Homo sapiens: one gene and its partners. Changing the gene in region 7 together with the main gene of any one other region gives a genetic interaction. Each region holds a gene or a part of one and is shown on either strand. Other genes may lie near its edges.

Region 1 (3,500 bases), on a different chromosome or scaffold from region 7:
AGATTTGTACCTGAGTAAGGGGAGAAGAGAAACTCCTCAGGAGGGCAATGCACATCCTGAGCCCTCCCTCGCTGTCCAGACATGGTTCGCGCTGTCCCTCACCTCCCCTCACCTCTTTTCAGTGAATCTGACAAGATCCACATTGCCCTGGGGGGCTGTGAGGAGGTCCAGGGTCTGCCCAATCTCAGTCTGATAGGAACTCTAAGCAAGACAAAGACGGTCCATGAGCCAGGCTTTCTCCAGATATGCGAAACCCTGGTATCCCAAGCCCAACATCCCATACCAGCTGACAACTGGGCAGAATCAGAAAGGCAACAGAAGGGGAGAAAGCCCCAAAACTTAAGGCCCATATTCATACACACAGTCCTTTATCACCCTTTCTTCCAATTACACAGGACAGAGAAGCCCTTTCTTGCCACTACCACAACCCCACTTCCCAACACCCTTCCTCGCTTTCTTTCCCTTCCAGGCACGCTGCAATCCTGTACCCTGAAACCAGCTAGATGAGCATGTCCTATAGAGGCCAAGGCTACCATGGGCACCCTCTGGGCATCGGGCCCTGTCTGCAATACACCTGCAGGAAGAGCTCGATCAGGTTCAGGTAATAGGGCTGCTCCCGGCAATAGAGCTTCAGCAGGCGGTAGATACATGCTTCCAGGAGGTTAGCATCATTGATGGCATCCAAACCCACGCCCGGCTGTCATGACAGACAGAAAAACAAGCAATCAATCTCTAGTCTCGGTTCATACTAAGAGCCATCACCCCAACACCTCAACCAGGCCATATATAACCACCTCCCTGTGGCCTGTCCCCATACCCACTGCTATTTTCCTGCCCACATTACCTTCTGATACCAGCAGATCTGTCCCCGGCGGGTAAGGGATGAATCCATGATGTCATCTGCCACCAGGAAGAAAGCTTGCAGCTAGAAAGAGTGGAATAAGACCTGCAGGGCTCCTCATTACTGTTCCTTCTATCAGCAACAGAGCTGCTACTTTATATCTGTATATAGTTTTGCTTTTTTTTGGTAGGGGACAGAGTCTCACTATTATCCAGTGCAGTGGTGCAGTCACAGCTCACTGTAGCCTCTAACTCCCAGGCTCAAGTGATCCTCCCACTTCAGCTTCCTGAGTTCCTGAGACCATAGGCACATACCCCATGCCTGGCTATTTTTTTTTTTTAATTTATTTTTTGTAGAGACAGGGTCCCACTATGTTGCTCAGGCTGGTTTTGAACCCCTGGGTTCAAATGATCCTCCTGCCTCAGCCTCCCAAATTACTGGGATTACAGGCATGAGGCATCACAGCCGGCCAGAGCTGCTGCCTTTGACAGTCCCTATGAGCTGGGAAAGTCAGGATGGGGAGACAGAAGACTTCTGTGCTATGGAGACTTGGAAAGTGACATAACATGTTTGGCTCAGACTCCCCGCCTATAAAATGGAACTAAAACACTCTTGTTTTAGGTTAAGAAACTAGAACAGATCTTTGACATCTCTAATGAGCCCTAGATTATTCCTGGTGTCAGGGAGATTAGGAAACACCTTCATATACCGTACTCTATTCTTGCCAAAAACCTCAATGAATGCTTAAAGTAAGATCTATTCATGAAACTGACTTCACATTACTTCCTAAATAAAAGAAGGCTATTCCCACATTGCCCCCAGCACTGTGTTTGAACACCCTGGTGACTAGGAACACAGCCTTACCTAAAGCAGCTCCTTAGCAGTGCAGGTCTAATAAGGTGGAACTGAAATCTGACTTTGACCTATGAGTCTCAGACATCTTTAAACATCTTTAAACATTAACTAAGGGCTTACTCTTCTGAGTGCCCATCTGAAGGTACCTGAACGTGTCGGGTTTCCCACTAGACCATGATCTCCTTGGAAGCAGGGACAGTAACTTCCCCCTCTTAGCATTTGCAGAGCCTAGCACAGCATTAGGCCTGGAGTGAGAGTTTCCTAAACACTTGTCTGACAAAGAAATTAATAAAACACTCTAACATTCCCTGTGATACTTCTTGCAGTCAGTCAAACTATGTTTTGGTTCCTTAAATAGCTTTTCTTTTTTTTTTTTTTTGAGATAGAGTCTCACTCTATCACCCAAGCTGGAGTGCAGTGGCGCCATGTGGGTTCACTGTAACCTCCGCCTCCCAAATTCAAGCGATTCTCCTGCCTCAGCCTCCCAAGTAGCTGGGACTACAGGCACCTGCCACCACCAACTGCTAGGCCAGCTAATTTTTGTATTTTCATTCAGTAGAGACTGGGTTTTGCCATGTTGGCCAGGCTGGTCTTGAACTCCTGACCTCAAGTGATCCGCCTGCCTCGGCCTCCCAAAGTGCTGGGATTACAGGCGTGAGCCATCGTGTCTGACCATTAAATAGCTTTTCAAGACATGGTTTGGGTTGCTTTTTTAAAGAGACAAGGGTCTTGTCATGTTGCCCAAGTTGGACTTGAACTCCTGGGCTCAAGTGATCCTCCTGTCTCAACTCTTGAGAATCTAGGGATATAGGCACACACCAGCGCACCCAGCTCAAGACATGGTTTTTATTTTCATAACTTATTTCCTTTTTTTGTTTTTCCACTTCTAGATACATACCCAGGTTTTTGTTTTTGAGATGGAGTTTCACTCTCATTGTCCAGGCTGGAGTGCAATGGCGCAATCTCGGCTCACTGCAACCTCCGCCTCCCGGGTTCACGCGATTCTCCTGCCTCAGCCTCCCAAGTAGCTGGGATTACAGGCACGTGCCATCACACCCGGCTAATTTTTGTGTTTTTAGTAGAGACAAGGTTTCACCATGTTGGTCAGGCTGGTCTCGAACTCCTGACCTCACGTGATCCATCCACCTTGGCCTCCCAAAGTGCTGGGATTTTAAGTGTGAGCCAATGCACCCGGCCCTATACCCAGGTTTTAATTTTTATTATTATTTTCTTTTGAGACAGGATCTCACTCTGTCACCCAGGCTTGAGCAGAAGACATGGTTTGTGTGTTTTTTTTTTTTTGAGATGGAGTTTCGCTCTTGTTGCCCAGGCTGGAGTGCAATAGCGCGATCTTGGCTCACTGCAACCTCCGCCTCCCGGGTTCAAGCGATTTTCCTGCCTCAGCCTCCTGAGTAGCTGGGATTATAGGCATGTGCCTCCACGCCTGGCTAATTTTTTTTTTGTTTTTTGTTTTTTGTTTTTTTTTGAGACAGAGTCTCGCTCTTGTTGCCCAGGCTGGAGTGCAGTGGCACAATCTCAGCTCACTGCAAGCTCCGCCTCCCAGGTTCACGCCATTCTCCTACCTCAGCCTCCCAAATAGCTGGGACTACAGGCGCCTGCCACCATGCCCGGCTAATATTTTTTTTGTATTCTTAGTAGAGACGGGGTTTCACCATGTTAGCCAGGATGGTCTCGATCTCCTGACTTCATGATCCGCCCGCCTCAGCCTCCCAAAGTGCTGGGATTACAGGCATGAGCCACTGCGCCCAGCCTAATTTTGTATTTTCAGTAGAGATGGGGTTTC
Region 2 (3,500 bases), on a different chromosome or scaffold from region 7:
TTCAAAACTTACCTCTTTTTGTATTTTAATTATCCAATTTTCATTAATGAGGATAATTTTCAGGCTAAAACACACCCACAAAATTATTTCATAAATTTCGCAGATGAGAAACTACTGCTCAGAAAAAGCTGGACTTGCCTAAAGCCACAAATACCATGGCAAAACTCCAGTTAGAAAACCCTTCTCAGTGGGTCTCACATTCCTGCACATTTTTTGAGTGAGGCACTAACTGCCCGGTTGCTCTGGACTATCTTTGCAAGGATATCTGCATAGCGAGCAGCCTTGAAAAACAGTCTTCCTCTAAAGCGAAGGGCAGATTTGCTTACTGTCCAGCATAATACAGATGCCTCTCTTGGGGCCGAAGGCAAGTCTGCTTGTGGTCCGTTATCCAAGGTTCCAGTTTTCTAAGCTCAGGAGATCTCAGCTATGATGCAAATCCACTGGGTGCACAGCATCCACCTGGGCCACTTCACGCCATCCCTCATAGGAGTTGGGGACAAAAGAGAAATGACGCAAACTTGATGCTTGTGCTGCTTGCTGTACAGTAAGTCCTTTGTTTCTGATGGTGTTCAGGAGACACTACTCCCAAAATATGGCATCTTGGCATACTGAAAATTTTACACTGGAGGAATCTGAAAAATGACGTGCAGGTAGGATTTTCTGACTGTCCCCTGAAGCAGGTCATAAAAGCATCTCACATAAGAGGTGCCCTCCCTACACTCAGAGGAAAGCAACATCCTTATCTCAGAAGAAGGGACAGAGAGAGGAATCTGAACAAAAGACTTGCTAAGTTTCTCCTGGCTTATTACTCTTCGTTCATACCCCTTGCTCCCATCATATTTCTTCACAACTTTCCACTCTTCATCAAAGCTAACATAAAAACACTCAGGTTCAACCAGTTCTTCGGTATTCATTTTCTTATGAAGGCTCCTGTGTCACCTAAAACTTTTGTGAAATAAAAGTGTATACCTTTCTCTTTGTTAATCTGTCTTTTGTTACAGGGACCCCAACTAATGAACTTCAAATGGGTGGAAGGAAAGGCTATTGTCCCTCCCCTACATCTCAGACCCAGAAGGTTCCTATCTTCCACCAGCATCAGTGAAAGTGTGGCAGGCTAACTTGTTAGTTTCAGGTCCCTATAGCTTCTGACTCCAAACAGACCACAAAACACAAGTATAAGATGTACAATAGCCAAAAATACTTCTTAAACAACTTGCTACGGCAAAGGAGGAATTAAACTGCCTATACTTGCACACTCTTTCTGGACCATATCCTTGGGGAAAAAAACAATAAGGCAATAGATAGCAAAATCTTTCATCTGGTAAATTTCACTCCTAGGAATTCACACTATATCGGGTTCCCTGGAAACAGACTCTGAGACAGACATATATGCAGAAAACTTAGCAGGCAGTGTTGTTCAGCAGATGCCCTTCTAGGAAAACAGAGAAAGAAGGATTGGGCAGAGGGAGAAGATAATGGGCAATGTGGCTACACTAAGGCCTCAGCCACATATGAGAGCTCTGGAGTCAGGAATGCCCTTCAGTTGTTCCAAGTTGAGGCACAGCAGCTAGATCATCATTCCCCTACATGGTCTAGCCACTGGCTAAAAGTGTCCCCTGTGAGGCAGTGTTAACACTGAATAGCCCTAATTATCTTCACTGAATTACAGACTGATACGGCTGACATTAAAAATGGGAAAGTCGAGACTTTCAGAGCACAGACACATGCAATCTCCAAATTCACAGAATAGTTAAGACAACACTAGCAAAAAAGGATACACAAACATAAGTGAGTAGAAAGGAATGGGTGTACTTCATATATTCAGATATAAGGAAATACACACAATGGTGACAATCACTGTGCTTTATGCCTGGTGTTATGGTGACTGTTTTACATATATTACCTCATCTACTTCTCGGAATGTACTGGACAGGTACTATCATCATACCCAATACACAAATGACACAAAACAGGTTAAGTAACTCACCCAAGGTGACAAGTAAACAACTGGCGGAGCTGGGCATCAAACCCAGGTCTGCCTGACTTCAGAGCCCATGTGCTTAATCAACCAATCCATTCCATGATCTCCCTATTTAGAGTGTTAAAAACAACAACTCAATACAACACGTATACCAAGGACATGTCATCCATTCACCCCTCCAGACCTACTTCCCGTCTTCACCTGTTTCTCTGGCCTGGGAGGCTGACTTGAACGTAATGCACGGAAGGGCTCCTTTGCTGCCAGGTACCTGGCTCCCTTGCTAGGATGACCTTGGGCTGGCCGTACCCGTGAATGGAGGTAGCAGCTCCTGTAAGGTGCTCTCTCTACACAACTTATCTGCAGATTCGGTAGCAGCTATTCCCCACCCACCCGTTGACTCTGCAAGCTCAGGTGGTAATCACTCCCACTACACATGCTAGGAGGTGCTGCACTGCCCCGAGGGGCCCCCCTATGCCCCACCCACACCTTGATAGTCTCTCCTCAGTCTGAGAGTGTCATCTTCTCCTGCCAACATCCTGAGCTGATATACACACCTATACATAAACAGGATGCTGAGTAATGGCAAAAAGGCATTATTTACCTTCCCAGAAAGAAATGTAAAGGTCATTTTCTGGGAATAATATGCTGTATTAGGGGAAAAATACTGGAAACAAGATAGAAACAGTCCTGCTCTTTAATAAACAACTGGAAGGAACACTTTGGCAAGTTTACTTAAGGCATAAAAGTAAATTATAGCTCCAGCAGCAAAGGTCCCTTCCTCCCTGTGACCCTGCCCCTGGCACTATCTTCTCCCTCCTCACCAACATCTTGCTTCCTCTGAGAAGCAGAGAAAAAAAGTACCTTCTCCCGATCCCTCCTGGTGGGACATACTTTCTATCTTTAGAGAAGGGTATCTAACCTTCAAACAATGTCCAGAGGTCAGCCAAATGAACAGGGGAATATAACATTCCAAATCAAAGCCCAAACATCAGGTACAGAATGGAAACACATAAATGTGCCTCAAGACAGTAAGCAGCATCTTCAGTCATTTGACCAAAGTTTAAGTAAAACTACCATACAACAGAGCTTACTAAGGTGAGGAAAGTATCAGGGAAAAATGAAAAATAGCTTCCAGAAGGATTCAGCTAAATTAATGGATGAAATAAATCCAACACTCCTTCATTCAAAATTGTTGATCAGGCACCAGCCAAGCTTAGGGGTGGGCCAGAAACTGTCTACCCCAGCCTTCAGCACTGACTAGCTGGGTGAAGCTGGGCAAGTTACCCTCCCTTAAGCTCAGTTCCTCAACTACAAAGTGACAGAATCATAGGAGGCAGTTCCTAAGTTTGCTACGAAGATTCAATAACTACAGATGTAAAGTGTTTAGCCCAGTTCCTGGTACACACTATAGATTCAGTAAATGTTAGCTAAAATGGATGGTATTACAAGTAGTAACAATTTAAAAGAAGAAACAAAAACTTCTGACCTGCCTTAAAATGCTCAACCTAATGAACTCTGT
Region 3 (3,500 bases), on a different chromosome or scaffold from region 7:
TCAAACCATTGATAATTTCTTAATCGGAGATGAGGCGATAATTTACTGAATAAAACTACATTTCCTACTAGTCTTAACCCTTTTTTCATCTTTTTTTTTTTTGAGACGGAGTTTCGCTTTTGTTGCCCAGGCTGGAGTGCAATGGCGCAATCTCGGCTCACCGCAACCTCTGCCTCCCAGGTCCAAGCAATTCTCCTTCCTCAGCCTCTCGAGTAGCCGGGAGGAGCATGCGCCACCGTGCCCAGCCAATTTTGTATTTTTAGTAGAGACAGGATTTCTCCACGTTGGTCAGGCTGGTCCCCAACCTCAGGTTATCACCCGCCTCAGCCTCCCAAAGTGCTGGGATTACAGACATGAGCCACCATGCCCGGCACCTTTTTTCATTTTAATCTTAAAAATCAGGATGCAAGAAACCAAATCATAACTTGTCCTAACTTGACAAATAAATATATTTATATGACATCAAGCTTTATTTTAGTTCACTCCTAACTAAAAAAGACCAGCTTTGCCTTCAAAAAAGGAGAAGGTAGGATAAAAACTTGTATCTAAACAGTTAACTGAAAGATTGCTAAGACATGCTAGTTGACCATCAGTAAGAACATTAAACAAAAGCATTTTCTACTGTTCCTATATATTTCTTATGAGCAATGGTATAAGGATTTTGTTGAACATAAAGATAGATCAGAATTACAGCTAAAAGTTCACCCAAATCAGGTAGAAAAACATCTAAGGGAAAGCCTATAAGTACCTGATACTGAAATGGTAAGTGGTTGGTAAGTAGTGTCAAACACTACTCTAAGCACTTCACCTGAAAACACCACTAGGCAATAGGTGATATTATTCCCATTTTACAGATGAAGAAAGTGTCACCCAGGGAATATAACTTCCCCAAGGCTGCACAGTTAAGAAATGGTACAGGCAAGATTTGCCACAGACTATACATGGTTTTCTAAAATTTCTACAACACTATTTCCATTTATATACAGGAGTCAATTTTAAAATGAAATGTAAATATAAGCCAGGTCTCTTTTACTTAATATATTTAACAGATATTCTTCATACATTGGTTTATATTATAATAATTGATCAGTAAAGAAAATTATTACACTATAAAAGCACCCTGAAATGTTAAGTCAATATCATTGCTTAAATAATTTAGAAGCCAAATTAATGCTGGGTGTGAGAGTTGGGAAAATTATATTAGGACTAACAAAGCAGTGGTACTGGAATGCCAGCTATATTAATGAGTTTTGTATTAATTACATATTGAATGAAACAAAGATACAAAAGACAAAATCTAGATTTTGATTGTTTTCAAAACCGTCTCACACCCAAATGCAAAGCAGTTGGAAAGTACAAGCTGAGGGAGGACTAAAAGATGTTTTCTACATTCTTCTAAATAATGAGCCAATATAGTTTAAACTGACTGCTGAAAATAATTTCCTAAAGTCTTTATATGTATTTCCTTGAGTACCTTCTCACATTCAGACACTCAAGTTGTCCTATATACAATACCTAAAAATACAGGGAGGCCTTGACTGCAAAAAAAGTCCCCTCACTTTCACATAGAACTAGCACCCCTCGTCTTAACCTCTAAGACCACCTAAACAACCAAAGTACTGCTTAGCCACATCCCACACAACTATGAACAGCTGTACTGGTGGAATAAACTGTAGTAACAAAGCTAGGAATTTCTGTAAACAGTATGACCAACTGCCACTTTTAAATAAGGGATTAAATGAATCAAGGAAATGGGAGGCTCTTCCATGTTAAAAACTCAACACAAACTAAGACATACTTATCTGTAATCCAAACAGCATTACTGAAGCAATGGTGGAAAGGACAATGGCCGCTGCTGCAGAAAAGCCTTTCATGATGTTGTCTGTGTACTTAACCACAACAGAAGTGTAGAGGCCACCAACACTTGCAAGAACTTGTATACAGAGAGAAATAAAATCTTATCACTCAAATAAATGAAACATTACATAATGGTGAGGCAATTTTCATCCCCAGAGATGCCATACTTTACCTAGGAAAAGGAAAATACTGTTTTCCTTAGAAGGAGCCATCTGAGAGTTTGTACTAAAATTGGTAGTTCCTATATAACACTGTTTTTCCAAAACAATGCCCAGAGGGCTATGTGGTCTATTAAATTTTACACATTTTTTGCTAATGTTAGATATTTTGGGGCATTGCTATCCCAAAGCAATTTTGCCTTCACAATCAAAACTAAGTCAACAAAATGAAAATTATATTCAAACTGGTATTTACAGTATCAAAGGATTAATTTCAAAATGTTATAACAGCTTAAAATGGACATCTAACTTAAAAAAAAAATAAAGGATCTACTAAGAACCTTTAATTCCTGGATACTTACAGATGACAAACCAGACATAATATGTGTAACCATAGAAAAATCCTTTTTCTTTAATTTCAGCTCCATCTGACAAGTAGACGCCAGCTAATGTCACAATAATCCCTGATAGATACATTTGAATGTTTCTCACCCAAAGAGAAGTATCTGAACTCTTTAAAACTTTTTCAAAATATACTCCTGAAAGAAAATTAGACATGCAAATATTAAAGATTACTATAAATTAACTTAAAATGTCTTTCATTTAGAACAATACCCTAGAGATATATAAAGTATATGATTTGGGGAACAAAACATACTTTACTTAAATGTGCATTTATTATGTAGGTTGTGTGACACATGACATACTGTACATTATAAATTTATGTTTTTACAGAGTATATAGAATAATAACTAATTGGGAAGTTTATAAGCTACATTTAACAGAAGGCTGTTAAATTAAGACAGTTTCTGCCTTTATTAGAGCAGTAAGACCACAAAAGCTCTCTGTACTACTTAATGCCAGTATGTCATTTGCTTTGGTCAGCTGAAAAACTACATTAAGAGTGAATTATCTTAATCACATCCCTGTAATATCTGCCTACTAATGAATACTCCTAATTCTGCAATATAATCTATAATCACCACTAGGAATCTTTTCAGAGTAACAACCAAAACTGAAGTAGAATTTGCTGTGTAAAGCCATTTTCCTTTAAAGCAGGGTTCCACAAGCCAAGTTCATACACAAGGTCAGAAGGATCATGAACTCCCCAACTGGATAATAAATTTTGTGTATATGTGCATTTTTCTGGAGTTGAAGGTCCATAGATTTTTTCAGATACTTCAAAGGAGTACATGATACCCCTCCCCAACAAAAGTCCCCTATCTCTGGATTTATGCTTAAAATGAATGCATATTTTACAAAGCCATTAAAGATTTTAGTTATAAATATCATGCTAGAGACTTAGGAACTGCCAATGAAGTACTTATCAACTAAAAAGTCTAACGAAAAACAAGATTATTTTTGATGAGTCTGTTGGAATGGGAACATAAAATAGCTATTCTTATTTTCACCTCTGATTTTACCTTCTGGGAGAAGCATTTATCCAGTGCTCAGTTACCGTAAACACAGAGAGATATTAAACCA
Region 4 (3,500 bases), on a different chromosome or scaffold from region 7:
TGATTTGAACTTGATTTGACTATTTTCTACTCTGAAAAGAAGCTTGCAGGTATTATAAGAACATACCTCTTGGGTTTGTTTTCTGGCTACTTGAGAAAAAAGATCTTCACAAAATCTTGGAATTATTCCTGGTTCTTCACTAAATCCCATCATCCTGAAAAATACATTATGAATAAGGGGGAAATAAAACTAATTCTTTCTTTAAAATTCTTTTTGGGGAAATAGGCTGGGAAGGGAGTAGGAAGCAAGTTCACTGAATCTCATAATTAAGAATCTGGACTCTGGAGTCAAATCTGCCTGAGTCCAAATCTTGACTCCAAGATATTTAACCTCACTAAACTTCAATTTCCTCTACTGTAAAACAGGAATAATACAACTATCTAATTCAGAGAATTGTTGTGAAAGAATATAAGCAAAGTCTTTAGCACAGTGTCTGGAATATAGTAAGAACTCAAATGTTGGGCAACCCGCTTGGGACCCCTCCACGCTGTGGACTGTGGAAGCTCTGTTCTTTCGCTCTTCACAACAAACCTTGCTACAAAAAAAAAAAAAAAAAAAAAAAAAAAAGAACTCAAATGTTAGCTACTGTTAAAATGCTGAGTATTTCTTTCTAGGACAGGTATTATTATCATAGCTACCATTTATCAGATGCCCCTCCACCCTTTTTTCTTAAGAGATGGGGACTAAGTTGCCCAGGCTGGACTCGAACTCCTGCACTTAAGCAATCCTCCTACCTCAGCTTCCCAAGTAGCTGAGACTACAGGTGTGTGCCATCACATCTAGCTTAGATGCCTTACTTTTAATTCTCACCAAAATACTTAAAAGATAACCTCTCTAGGCCTTAGTTTATGTAAAATATATAAAGTACAGTAAAATGGGGCCAATGATAATTACAAGATGAATTGTATCAAGGTAAATGTATAAACTGAAGCCCAGAGGCTAAGTAAATTGCCCAAGTTTGCAGAACTGGTATATAAAATGGATGAGATTTGGGCCAAGATCTGTGTGATTTCAAAACTATATTCTTTCTATCACCCCTATGCCACTTCTCACAAAAGTATATTTAAACACTTCTGGATAATTGCATTTCCAATACAACTTACGTATATGATTTTCCAGAGCCAGTCTGACCATAAGCAAAAAGACAGGTATTGAAGCCTTCGAAGGCTCTTTCTAGGAGTGGTGCTGCTAGCTTCTCATAGACAGTTGTCTGGCTAGCGTAGTGAGGATGACATTCATCAAAAGACCAGAATGAAACATCATAAATAAAATTATAAACTTGTTTCGTGTCAGGGTGTTCCACAGTTATTTCTTTCCCACTCATGAAGACTACCTGGGATGCTTTTTCAATCTTCTCTCTTGAAAGAAGCACAAAGAAAAAAATCAAGTAACTAAAATGATCAAGGGTATTATTCTCACAGAACATAATAAATACCTCAAAACTATTTAAACAATCTTCCAAGGCAAGATAATTCTGTAGTTTTATGTGGAAAATGCAGATAAGCAAACATAATTCTAGTGGGTTTCCAAAATATATTTCCTGAGGCTCCAGTGCCACCAAAGGGAAAATCCCAGATTCCTCCAGAAAACCTATCCTACTTTTACAAGATTTTTTCCTCTTTTTTTTTTCTCTTGAACTATACCTTTTCCCATCCCACCTACTATAATCTACCTATACTCTTCATCCAAATCTACATCTTTATTATACAAATTTGGGGGGGTACCAATCTAAATAAAGCTGGCATAAAATACAAATATCTAATTTTAACAAACTCAGTTGACTGTAAGTTTCAATCATAAGTCTCTCTTGGCTACTAAAGATCTCTCCTCCTTCCTCTAGATTCTCTCCCTTAAAATCATGAATCTTTCTGTATATCCTTTTTCCCTTTGAGACTTAGGTGGAAATCTTTCATTTACTTTAGATCTACAGAAAAACATCATCACTCTTTGTCTGGCTCCAGATATACACTCCCTCCCCGCTCCATCCCTGACTCTGAGACTGCTTTAAATCAGAATTTATTCTGGAAAAAACACCTGCCTCATCAATTTGACAAGTACTCTACCCTGGCCCTGCTTTCAAGGCTTGTCTGATGAGTTTGGAATCAGGCACTTGGTCCCTTACTAAGTTCAGTATAGTCATCCATCTTGCATTTTGTCCCTACCAGCTCTTTCTATTGTTTCTCTTCCTATCATGGTTCTTGAGGCTCTATTAGACATTCCAATTCTCTCAAACCAACTCACCCTCAGTTCTCCCTCTTAATACTAACCCATTTGCACGAAAAAGATTCTACAGTACTGTATAACTTGCCTTTAACTACTGACCCCTTAGGTTCAAACTGGAGGTTCCTGCCCTGATGCAGTGGTCACCAAATCCTCTTCTAACTTGCTTAGATACACAGCTTCAAGTTAAACACTACTAACTCTGTGAAGTTTTTCACTGTCCCTTAAAATATTTTAAACAACTACATTAAAATATTTTAAAACAATTACATTTTGTCACATTCACATTTTGTCATGTCCATCTTTTCCAACCTTATCTTTAATCTGTGTCTTCCCCACCCACAACCACTTTTAGAGAGAGATTTTTTGCCATCAAAATCAAATCTAATGTATCACTGCATTTATAACTACTATATAGTAATCGGAGACAATGATGATGATAATCACCACTCTGGAAAGGGTTTTGAAAGGACCTCTTTAGGGAACCAGTAATTTGTTATGGCTCTTCTTTTTTTTGAGACAGTCTCGTTCTGTCGCCCAGGCTGGAGTGCAGTGGCCTGATGTCAGCTCAATGCAGCCTCTGCCTCCCGGGTTCAAGTGATTCTCCTGCCTCAGCCTCCCGAGTAGCTGGGATTACAGGTGTGCAACACCATGCCCAGCTAATTTTTGTATTTTTAGTAGAGACAGGGTATCACCATATTGGCCAGGCTGGTCTCAAACCCCTGGCCTCAAGTGATCTGCCTGCCTTGACCTCCCAAAGCAATGGGATTACAGGCGTGACCCACCACACCTGGCCTGTTATGGCTCTTTTTAAGGGATAGGTATAACATTCCAGCATATATTGCAGATCTGAAAGCAGATTTCATTAGAGACCTAAGTGACTTATTCAGACTTTTTAAAAGCAATATATCTAGAGAAACTTCAATATACAAAATATGGTGATTCAATTTTTTAATTTTATAGTCAGTGATCAAAAATTATCAACACACACTACAACTAGACCTAAAAGTTCTTTCTATATAAAAGTATTGCCAACAAGTTTGAAGATGCACGAATACACTGACCTTCCAAAGGCAGAGAGGAATTAAAGGTACCTTACATGTAACTGCTTGGCTTTAGATTTTAAAAGGCATCACATACCTCTTGGTGAAAGGTCTTACGCGTACTGCCACTGTCACTTGACTATTCTCTACTTTTAAGGGGTCTTTTCCTGCAGAGGTGTTCTGAACTACAGTTTCTTCTTCGGGAAGAATTGTATTTTCTGCGGATCTTTCCTGTTT
Region 5 (2,670 bases), about 130 Mb from region 7:
AGAAGTTTTGGGCCCAGAACAGGATCCGGGGAGCGGTGTCATTGTAACTCACAGGAGGATGGATCACAGGTGATACTGGCTGTTTTTGTAGCAGCTGGCGACCTAGCCCTCCGGCCACCACGGCTACATCACGGGCCACCTGCAGAAACACCCAACCAGCCTTCTTTCAGCAGCCCTGGGAGAGTGTCACACTTGAACCCAATTGTCGTGCCCTCCTTCCCCTCCCAACAGGACACCCTGTCCACTATCTCAAAGTCCCATCAGCCAGAGGAGACCTTTCCTCCAGGAAGCCTTCCCTGATGCCCCCTAAACCCTGATGACATTCCTAGTCCCTCAAACTTAGGGTCATTTAGACTTAGTGTCCAAGTCTGCCACCCACAAGCCTCACAGGACGAGATGGAAAGCTGCCCCTGGAATGGGGAGGCAGGACTTGAGTGCTCATCCTAGCCCTGCCCCCAGAGTCAGCCACTCCAAATAGTCACACCACAGGGGTTCTGTGCCTCATGCTTCCCCTATGCTGGGCCTCCTGGGCAGCCTACCTGTGGCATACACTCCCCACCTCCAAGCAGACTCACCACACTGCCTCTCCCTGCACGCCCCAGAGCCCCTGCTGGAAGGGCACATACCCTGGAAGGGCGGACCGCTGTGAGGGCCGCTGTGTATGGGACATCTTCGGACTTGAGTGTGCTCAGGACCTGCCCGATGACCTCATCTGAGGGTCAACAAGGAGAGCAGAGACTCAGGTCACCAGGCACCCTGCATAAAGAAACACTCCCCACTGTCTGCTTTAGAAACCTTCTAGACCATCTGAAAGTGGTGTGTTTACTTTCCACTGAGGATCCTTAGGAGCAGCTACTTCTCATCCCACCCCCATTCCCAGCCTCCCCCAGAGACAACTGTGGCTTCAGTCATCGATTCCCTAATGCCAAGCCCTACCTATGTGACATAAGAAAATACATATCAATACAGAAAACTCCACATCCACCCATGAAAGGTTCACGACTGCCTTTCCATGGGGAGTGACTGTCCTTTATTGCAAATAGATGAGTCCCCAGAATTGTTTTTCCAAATGTCTGCAGTCTTATTAAACCCATAACTCTAGGATTCACGCTGCCTGCACAGAAACTGGCTCCACAGCCTCCAGCACAGAGAGCCGCCCCCCTCTGCCAAGTGGGGTCTGGCTGGACAGGGTCTTCTGTCAGGTGGTCCCTGGCTGGTCCTGGGAGCCAGCATTTCCCTGCTCCACTGCCAGCTGCCCCGAGAAGCAGGCGGGCCACCCTGGGAGTGAGGAGGCCGAGGAACTGCAGGCCAGCTCTCTCTGTGGCCCCCACCCAAGGGCTAGATGAGGACGTGCATCCTCCCTGATTCTACTCACCGTTGCCTGTGAGGACTTCCCTGGGTGCCATCAGACCAGAGCTATGGAAGACAAACAGAGCGCCAGAGTCCTCAGGCGGCCTGGACCTGCACTGCCCACTACCCTTCCCCGACCCCAGCTTCTCCTCCCCACTAGCCCCACGCACCAAGCCTGCACACTCTTACCTCAGTGCCCCCTCCTGGAAGCCCATCCCACCCCGAGGCTTCTCAGTCACACTCAAGTCCTGGCCACCTGCTCTGTGACAAGGGCCTGGCTAGGTGAGAAGGCTCCCCACCCGCAGGGCTCACATCTGCCTCATCTCTGGAGGCCCAGCTCAGTGCTAGGCACCAACTCCTGAGTCACAGAAGAGGCCCTCCCCTCCTCTTCTGGCCACACAGGGCACCTTCTGGAAGGGCTGTGAGGGGGTGGGGAGTACTGGCATCTTTAGCCAAACGGTGCCACCACATGCCATAGCCCAGGGCCTTGCTGCTCTCTGGGCCCCGAGGCTGGTGGCTGGGCCATGCGGGCAGTACCTGGCTGTGTAGGGCAGGCGAATGAGCAGCAGAGCAGGGAGGCTGGCATTGAGCTTCAGCTCCCGCAGGGTGGCCAGGTCCACATGCAAGGGGCTGGCCCCGAGCTTCTCCTGCAGGTAAGTGGTCAGAGTGCTGACTGCATACCAGTCGACGGCAGGAAGCACCAGTGAGGAGGGGGCCAGGTCCAGGGCATTCTGGGGACAGGGGAGAGGCAAAAGGTGAGTTAGCCAGGGGCCAGTGGGCCTGGCCCAGCCCCCCACACCTCTCTGGCAGCTCTCCTCTGGCAAGCCATACCCATAAAGGCTCACCAAGAAAATGGCCCACACCCCAGCCCCTGACATTCAGGCCCCAGGCCTTTCTACCCCAAAGCCAGCGTCTCTGCTCCCTAAGAGTATGAGGTGGCTTTTGTTGTTGTTGTTGTTTTTGGGGGGGATGGTTGACCCAGAAGAGACTCAGACCCAAGTAACCCTGATATGAGGTCAGAGTACAGTTCTTATGCTGGGAGAAGGAGCACAGAATGTCCCCCATGGCCCCTGGCTGGGAGAGGACTCTCACCTCTAGGTTAGAAAAGGCGCTGTCCTGCTTGTTTCCAAACACACCGCCATATGCTGTGAAATCCTCAATGCTCAGCTATTAGGGAAATAGGGGAGACATCTGAGGAGGTTTGGCAAGTGATGGGGGCCAAGGCAGGGGACAGCCACCTTCCCCGTGCATTCTCAGGGCCAGCAAAGTCTCACTGAGAGTCAGGTTCAGTATGGTGGAGCACAACTGTGTGTTGGTGGG
Region 6 (3,246 bases), on a different chromosome or scaffold from region 7:
GGCTTCTGTTGAGAGTGATCGGGGAGTAGAGGAAGGTATAGTAGTTGCTACAAGGAACTGACTTGCAGGGCTGAGCAGAGTCACTGAAGGCAGCTGACCAATGGGAAACTACTGTTTGGTGGTGATTCAACTCCTGGCGAGACAGGTCTGAGACAAGTTTGGATTTTGATCCTGGTTCTGCCTCTTCATTAGCTAAATATCCTTGGCCAAATAACCTAAACTTGCTGAACCTCAGAAGTCCACATGAAAAAACTGAAAAGGTTGAGTATCATTCCATGCTTGGGGTTCAGCTGTGTGAGTGCAGAGTAAAAGTTATTGGCAAGAAGGTGGTTTAAATAAGGTCTTCGTTCATTAGAAATGGAAACCTGGCTCCTGGGCCTGTAATCCCAGCACGTTAGGAGGCCCAGACAGGTGGAAACAGAGACATAGAGAACTCAACAAGGAAGGTTCTCCTTCAGGCCAGGGACTCCTCCCCTCTCTCACACTCAAAACCATCAATATTTGAAGCAAAAAAGGAAAAAAAGTTGCCAAGCTTTATTTAGGCTGTAATGGTTACAGATAACACACATCTAACCCTATATTCCGTGCTTCCCATGCAGTCCCCTAAGCAGACTCAGCTACCCTTTCCCTCCAGTCTCACTTCTTGTCTTCCTCCTTCTTGTCCTTCTTGCCGTCCTTGGTGGCCTGGGAGGCCAGGGAGCCCATAGCATTTCGAATGGCTTCATTGTTGGGATCCACACCTGGGAGGTTCTCTAGGACACTCTGAAGGAACTCGGGGTCCTGCATCACGTCGTAATCATCCTCCTCCTGCAAACAGGCAGTGTGAGCTCAAGGGAGGGTATGGAGCGGCAGGAAGTAAGCAGGTGTTAAGGACAGGAGCATGCCGCTGCCAGAGGCCCCCTGCCTTCTGACTGTGTGGGGATCTGGGCACCTCTGGTCGACGTAAGGAAAGGACAAGTCAGCAAAATCCTTTATACAGCATGAATGCAGTTATTACTAACCAAATAGAGGGGCCTGCTGAGAACTCTGTTAATTGAGCTCTGAGGAGAAAAACAGATGCCATCACATTGAGGTTTCCTGCTCTCAAGACACCCAGTTCTCCTTTTTCTTTTTCCCAGACCCGCTTTTTTCCCTCCTGGGAAGACATCCTAGAGAACTGCCCAGGCTGCTCCCACCAGCAAGAAAGGAAAATTACAGAACAAGAGGACATTTCTCCAACTCTGACCATTAGCATTGCTACCTTAGCAAGGTTTACATGTAAGAAATGCAAATCCATGTGTTTCCCTCTGCTCCTCAAAGGACTTAGCTATGGTAGAAATACTCCCAGCCCCAGAGGGATGAGGATCTAAATTCAAGGACTTTAAACCTGATGGGGGCAGGGTTGGGTCTCACCTTGGCTGGCTCAGATGTGTCCATAGCTGAGCTGGCATCAATGTCTGCTGATTCCGCCTGGCCAAACTCTGAGGAAGAGAGGTCAGTCTGTTCAGTTACACTTCCTCACCCCAACCTCTGCCTAGGCACCACCCAGGCTCTGGCTCACCTGCTCCCTGCAGGGACATCTGCATGGCATAAGCAATCTGCTCTTCCTCAGTCATACTGCTTAGGTCAGGAAGCCCAGTGCGGCCAAACTCTTGCTGGCTGATGGTCATCTTCAGCAGGGCATCGTCTGAGTCTGGGAAAAGGAAAAGAGGAGCAGGGTAGAATTGGTGCCATATCCACACAGGCCAGCCTCCAAGGCCATTCCTAGCCCAGCCCTCCCACATATTCCTACCCTGTCAGACCTCCACACTCTCCCTGCAGTGCCTACACCCAGCTTTCAATGTTTAGCATCCCGCAGTCCCAGGACTTCGGATTCCACCTCTTTCACCTTCAGTCCCAGTCGTAGCAATCCCGGCCTCAGCAGCAGAAGCTGCAGCTGCCCGCCGGGCCTCCTCCTCCTGCCGCTGCCGCTGCTCTTCCATAGATACACGAAGGGCCTGGTGAAGGGCAGGGCATAATCAGGGCTCCCCTGCCCTCACTCCTACAGGGAGCTGGGAAAGTCAGTTGGGGTGTGGGAAAGGAACATAAAGGGGCAGCTTCTGGTTTATCACACAGAGAAGAAGCTGGAGGGATAAGCAGTGGTACGGGATTAAAAAGTAAGGACTTGGGAGAAGCCTCGGTTTTCATCAGAAGTGAACAAGAAAGCATCTGACACTGGTGCCCCTAGAGATCAGACAGCATTATAGGGAAGAGGCGGCAAAAGGAGGTCTTGGAAAATGAGTGATTGGTAGTGTCTAGGACTATCCAGCCTGATAGAAGCTCTGTGATGTGTGTGCCAGAAGAGAACAAAGAGGGACCTTTGGACTCTACCTGGGGTCAACATTTGCTCACCAAGGCCAGCTCAGGATCAGCACTGGGATCTACTCCAAATTCAAAGTCACTGGCACCAAGACCCAGCATGGCACCACCTTCACCAGCCAAAATCGGAGAACTGATGAGAGCATCAGCCAAACTGGGCCCAGGAGGCACTGTCACCAGATGAGAACCGGTTCCATCTTTGCCATTCAACGTGTTTACAAAGGCTGTCAGCTTTTCTGTGTTCACCTCCTGGGGAGGAAAGAACACATGATGCCCTTCTTCAGGCCTTGCTCCCTGTTCTTTCCCATTTCTGCACTACTCTGCCACAGTACCCGCACTCCTCAGGGTTAAGGACCATTCTGTTTATGACCAAATTAAGTCAATGCCCTCCAATCAGTCCCTACTCACCTCTTCCCCAAAATTGATAATGTCAACATTTACTTTCTCCTTCTTGAGGCGTTTAGCCAGTTTCACCAGCTGGGAAGAAGGGGAGAAAAATCAAGAAATCTGTTCCATACTCGAGGGGGGGAAAGGACCCGCCGCATAAAAGCATACAGAAATCTATTGACCTCCCCAAGGTCCTCCAACAGAATCACTGAATTCTCCACATTCACCTTTCCCCAAAGTGATGAGCCTGATGCCTCTGCCAGGTTCTCCTGAGGGCTGGAAGACCTCAGTCCCAAACATGGGCTCCCCACATTCCCCAGCTGCCACTTGGACTCACATCCTTCTCATTGTCCTCCACTGGGCTTCCCACAAAGGCAATGATGCGCATCTTGTGATTCTTGCCTTGTCGGTGCTTCAGAGCCAGCTTGTAAAGGGAGAGGAAGTTCTCAGAGTTAACCAGAGGAATCACTCAGCTCTTTCCTCTGTCACTCGGTTCCCTTTTTCTTACAGTTTCTTTGTACC
Region 7 (3,500 bases):
TACTGAGACTTCTTTTTCCTTAAAATTGACACCTAATGTCCAAAACTAAGACTAAAGAAGGTTATATATATCCCCACCAATAATTGGGTCCACGCACCTCTTTCAGAGCTTATTAAATGGTATAGAACTAACTAGTCCCGCTATCCCAAACATCACCTAGCCCATTAACTTCTCATTCCCAGTTGTGAGTTGTCAGCCTAGTAGACAGCTGAACAGCTTTGCCCTGCCGTCTTTCCCAGGCAAGGGGGCAAGGTTAGGGGTGGGGAGGAGATGCTTATCTTGCCCTGAATTCAAGACAGGACAAATTCAAAGATCTGGAATTGTCTCTAAAAAGAAGAGTTTAGTATCCCTGCTAAATGTTTGCTGAGCTGTGAGCTCACCGTGGTGTAGCCATCAAAGTGGAAGACAACGTGGGAAACCTGTGTGTTCCTCAAAGTTTAGGGATGTACATAAATTATGTATTTAGAGGGAGAGAGAAATATGTGTGTACCCTCTGCCTACTTTATTGGTTTTAAATTTAGGAATATAATTTCATTGCTTCTAAAATGTCTTCCCACTTCCATGTAAAAAGTCCAGGGTGTCATTTAAATCTAGTTTTTTGTTTTGTTTTGTTTTGTTTTTTGTTTGTTTGTTTGAGACGGAGTTTTGCTCTTGTTGCCCAGGCTGGAGTGCAATGGCACGATCTTGGCTCACTGCAACCTCCGCCTCCTGAGTTCAAGTGGTTCTCCTGCCTCAGCCTCCGAAGTAGCTGGGATTACAGGCACCTGCCACCACACCCAGCTAATTTTTTATGTTTTTTTAGAGATGGGGTTTCACCACGTTGGCCAGGCTGGTCTCGAACTCCTGACCACAGGTGATCCACCCGCCTCAGCCTCCCAATAAATCTAGTTTTATAATGCTACTTTTAAAGAGTTGCATATATAGGCCAGGTGTGGTGACTCACGCCTTTAATCCCAACACTTTGGGAGGCTGAGGTGGGCAGGTTACTTGAGCTCAGAAGTTTGAGACCAGCCTGGGCAACATGGCAAGATTCCGTCTCTACTAAAAATACAAAAAATTAGCTGAGCATGGTGGTGCATGCCTGTGGTCCCAGCTACTCAGGAGGCTGAGGTGGGAGGATGGCTTGAGCCTGGGGGGCAGAGGTTGCAGTGAGCAGAGATTGTACCACTGCACTCCAGCTGGATGACAGAGTGAGAACTCTGTTTCAAAAGCAAAATAAGTTGTATATGTAATAGGTTTTTTTCTTTTTTTCTTTCTTTCTTTCTTTTTTTTTTTTTTTTCTGAGACAGGATATCACCCTGTCACCCAGGCTGAAGGGCAGTGGTACAATCACCGCTCACTGCAGCCTCGACCTCCTGGGTTCAAGTGATCATCCCACTTCTCAGTCTCCCAAGTCGCTGGCACCACAGGTGTGCACCACCACACCCAGCTAATTTTTGTATTTTTTGTAGAGAGGCGGGTCTTGCCATGTTGCCCAGGCTGGTCTCAAACTCCTGGGTTCAAGAGATACAACCACCTCGGCCTCCCAAAGTGCTGGGATTACAGGCATGAGCTAGAGCTACCACACGGGGCTATTTCTTTAAAAAAAAAAAAATGAAATATATACTGATTTTGAAAAGAAAAAGCCACTAAACATCTGTCTGAAATTTGGTGGGGAAAAAAGAGAGATGAGATGAGATACTTCCTGAGCACACTGTAAATGAAGATGTTTAAATTTTGAATTATGGTGTATAGAATTTTTAGAAGAGGGATTAAACAATACCTGCTATCTGGTTCCAAGTGAAGAGTAGATTGCTTTAAAAAAATTCTCTATGCTTTGTTGCTAAAAATTCCTTTATAAATAGTGGAAGTAAAATTTGACCATTCTGTTTCTATACTTAAATGTTTTTAAATCCTTCTTAAATATTGAAAACCCTGTTCTTATTTGTATAAGCCAGTTGTAAGTTTATTTGAGGGCAAAGTAAAAAACATTGGTGATAAAAGTGATGTTGTGATTATAGTAAGCTGGAATTTAAACTTAGAACACAGTGTAAGCCTTGCCAAATTGATAGTTTACATTCTTTCAGCTATAACTACTGTGAGTTATTCAAGGAATATTGAGTTGTTATTTTACCTATTCAGTCATCTGGTGACCTGTAAATCATTTCTGTGTGTTTAGAGAATTAAGGTAGTTGTGGTTTTTTTTTATTATTATTTGCAAACCACACTAAGCATAAGTAGGGCTTGATTGGGGTAGCCCTTAGCCCCCGCTTAATAATAATCACCAGCTTCAAGTCTATGGGTATCTTGCTGCCTTGATGACAACTATAGATTTTCTTCTCCCTTGACCCATGATTTTTGTTTGTTTGTTTGTTTTGTTTTTTTGTTTCTTTGAGACAGAGTATCTTTCTGTCACCCAGGCTGGTCTCAAACTCCTGGTCTCAAGTGATCTGCCCACCTCAGCCTCCCAAAATGCTGGGATTACAGGCATGAGCCACCGTGCCCGGCCCCATGATATTTTTAAACCCTGAGTCTCCCATATTCTGATTTTTCTACTGTTGCCCCAGTCTCATTGCTTAGTATATAAACCAGAATAAAATTGATCCTCAATTCCATCTAAGTCCTACTGTTTCTTGGCTGTTGTTTTATTAAAATCATGAAGAAAGCAAAAAAGGCATTCCATCACAACTATTGAAAAGTGTTCTAGAAGTTACAGTCATTGCTATAAGACCAAACAGGAAGGAAAAGATGAGGTATGAATGTTGGAGGAGATAAATGATTATTATTAGCAAATAATGGAAAATCCAAGAGAATAAAGACTAAGACATCCTAAATGGAAAGTTCAGTTTGGTGATTAATTACAAAGTAAATATACAAAAATAAATGTAGTATTCCTGTGTATCTGAAAGAAACAGATCATGTAATAGGAAGAAAAGATCTCATTCAGAAAGTAATGTGACATATAAAAAATAAAAAACTAACATTTTAAAAGAAGTACACAGGGCCTATATAGAGAAACTACAAATCTGTACTGAGAGATGTAGAAGATTTCAGTAAACAGATGTCGTGTTCCTATGTCAGAAATGTAAAATTATGGATTTACCCCTAGTTATTGCAGTCATTGCAGTGACATTAGAAATCCTAATGTGGGCCAGGCGTAGTGGCTCACACCTGTAATCCTAGCGCTTTGGGAGGCCGAGGTGGGCGGATCACTTGAGGTCAGGAGTTCAAAACCAGTCTGGCCAACATGGTGAAACCCTGTCTCTACTAAAACTACAAAAAAATTAGCCGGGCGTGGTGGTGGGCGCCTGTAATCCCAGCTACTCGGGAGGCTGAGGCAGGTGAATCACTTGAACCCAGGAGGCAGAGGTTGCAGTTAGCTGAGATCTCGCCACTGGGCAACAGAGCGTGACTCTGTCTCAAAAAAAAAAAAAAAGAAAAAAAGAAAAAAAATCCTAATTTGAATAATATTTGGTGGTTGTCAAAATGATTCTCAAATTTATCAGAAAGGATAAGGGGAG

What was found.
Region 1: changes in MBTPS2 (region 7) and FDPS together harm fitness less than expected from each alone (positive genetic interaction), as found in Homo sapiens cells (one large-scale study listed by BioGRID).
Region 2: changes in MBTPS2 (region 7) and MPHOSPH6 together harm fitness less than expected from each alone (positive genetic interaction), as found in Homo sapiens cells (one large-scale study listed by BioGRID).
Region 3: changes in MBTPS2 (region 7) and SLC35A1 together harm fitness more than expected from each alone (negative genetic interaction), as found in Homo sapiens cells (one large-scale study listed by BioGRID).
Region 4: changes in MBTPS2 (region 7) and KIF14 together harm fitness more than expected from each alone (negative genetic interaction), as found in Homo sapiens cells (one large-scale study listed by BioGRID).
Region 5: changes in MBTPS2 (region 7) and ATP6AP1 together harm fitness more than expected from each alone (negative genetic interaction), as found in Homo sapiens cells (one large-scale study listed by BioGRID).
Region 6: changes in MBTPS2 (region 7) and PSMD4 together harm fitness less than expected from each alone (positive genetic interaction), as found in Homo sapiens cells (one large-scale study listed by BioGRID).

Annotation. Positions count from the first base shown.
Region 1 is NC_000001.11:155,315,366-155,318,865, reverse strand, and holds part of FDPS (farnesyl pyrophosphate synthase), read right to left. Parts: intron 2,013-3,500; exon of another isoform or gene 926-2,012; coding exon 845-925; intron 698-844; coding exon 575-697; exon of another isoform or gene 470-574; intron 202-469; coding exon 113-201; intron 11-112; coding exon 1-10. UniProt on the Homo sapiens protein: Key enzyme in isoprenoid biosynthesis which catalyzes the formation of farnesyl diphosphate (FPP), a precursor for several classes of essential metabolites including sterols, dolichols, carotenoids, and ubiquinones.
Region 2 is NC_000016.10:82,160,225-82,163,724, forward strand, and holds part of MPHOSPH6 (M-phase phosphoprotein 6), read right to left. Parts: intron 1-3,500. UniProt on the Homo sapiens protein: RNA-binding protein that associates with the RNA exosome complex. Involved in the 3'-processing of the 7S pre-RNA to the mature 5.8S rRNA and play a role in recruiting the RNA exosome complex to pre-rRNA; this function may include C1D.
Region 3 is NC_000006.12:87,507,474-87,510,973, reverse strand, and holds part of SLC35A1 (CMP-sialic acid transporter), read right to left. Parts: intron 2,555-3,500; coding exon 2,378-2,554; intron 1,934-2,377; coding exon 1,799-1,933; intron 1-1,798. UniProt on the Homo sapiens protein: Transports CMP-sialic acid from the cytosol into the Golgi apparatus, functioning as an antiporter that exchanges CMP-sialic acid for CMP. Binds both CMP-sialic acid and free CMP, but has higher affinity for free CMP.
Region 4 is NC_000001.11:200,614,252-200,617,751, forward strand, and holds part of KIF14 (kinesin-like protein KIF14), read right to left. Parts: coding exon 3,361-3,500; intron 1,359-3,360; coding exon 1,104-1,358; intron 155-1,103; coding exon 67-154; intron 1-66. UniProt on the Homo sapiens protein: Microtubule motor protein that binds to microtubules with high affinity through each tubulin heterodimer and has an ATPase activity. Plays a role in many processes like cell division, cytokinesis and also in cell proliferation and apoptosis.
Region 5 is NC_000023.11:154,431,677-154,434,346, reverse strand, and holds part of ATP6AP1 (V-type proton ATPase subunit S1 precursor), read right to left. Parts: intron 2,518-2,670; coding exon 2,443-2,517; intron 2,082-2,442; coding exon 1,888-2,081; intron 1,417-1,887; coding exon 1,376-1,416; intron 713-1,375; coding exon 627-712; intron 140-626; coding exon 1-139. UniProt on the Homo sapiens protein: Accessory subunit of the proton-transporting vacuolar (V)-ATPase protein pump, which is required for luminal acidification of secretory vesicles.
Region 6 is NC_000001.11:151,264,734-151,267,979, reverse strand, and holds the end of PSMD4 (26S proteasome non-ATPase regulatory subunit 4), read right to left. Parts: intron 3,149-3,246; coding exon 3,062-3,148; intron 2,815-3,061; coding exon 2,746-2,814; intron 2,587-2,745; coding exon 2,371-2,586; intron 1,977-2,370; coding exon 1,868-1,976; coding exon of another isoform or gene 1,859-1,867; intron 1,673-1,858; coding exon 1,541-1,672; intron 1,461-1,540; coding exon 1,393-1,460; intron 808-1,392; coding exon 637-807; 3' UTR 501-636; downstream 1-500. UniProt on the Homo sapiens protein: Component of the 26S proteasome, a multiprotein complex involved in the ATP-dependent degradation of ubiquitinated proteins.
Region 7 is NC_000023.11:21,863,617-21,867,116, forward strand, and holds part of MBTPS2 (membrane-bound transcription factor site-2 protease), read left to right. Parts: intron 1-3,500. UniProt on the Homo sapiens protein: Zinc metalloprotease that mediates intramembrane proteolysis of proteins such as ATF6, ATF6B, SREBF1/SREBP1 and SREBF2/SREBP2.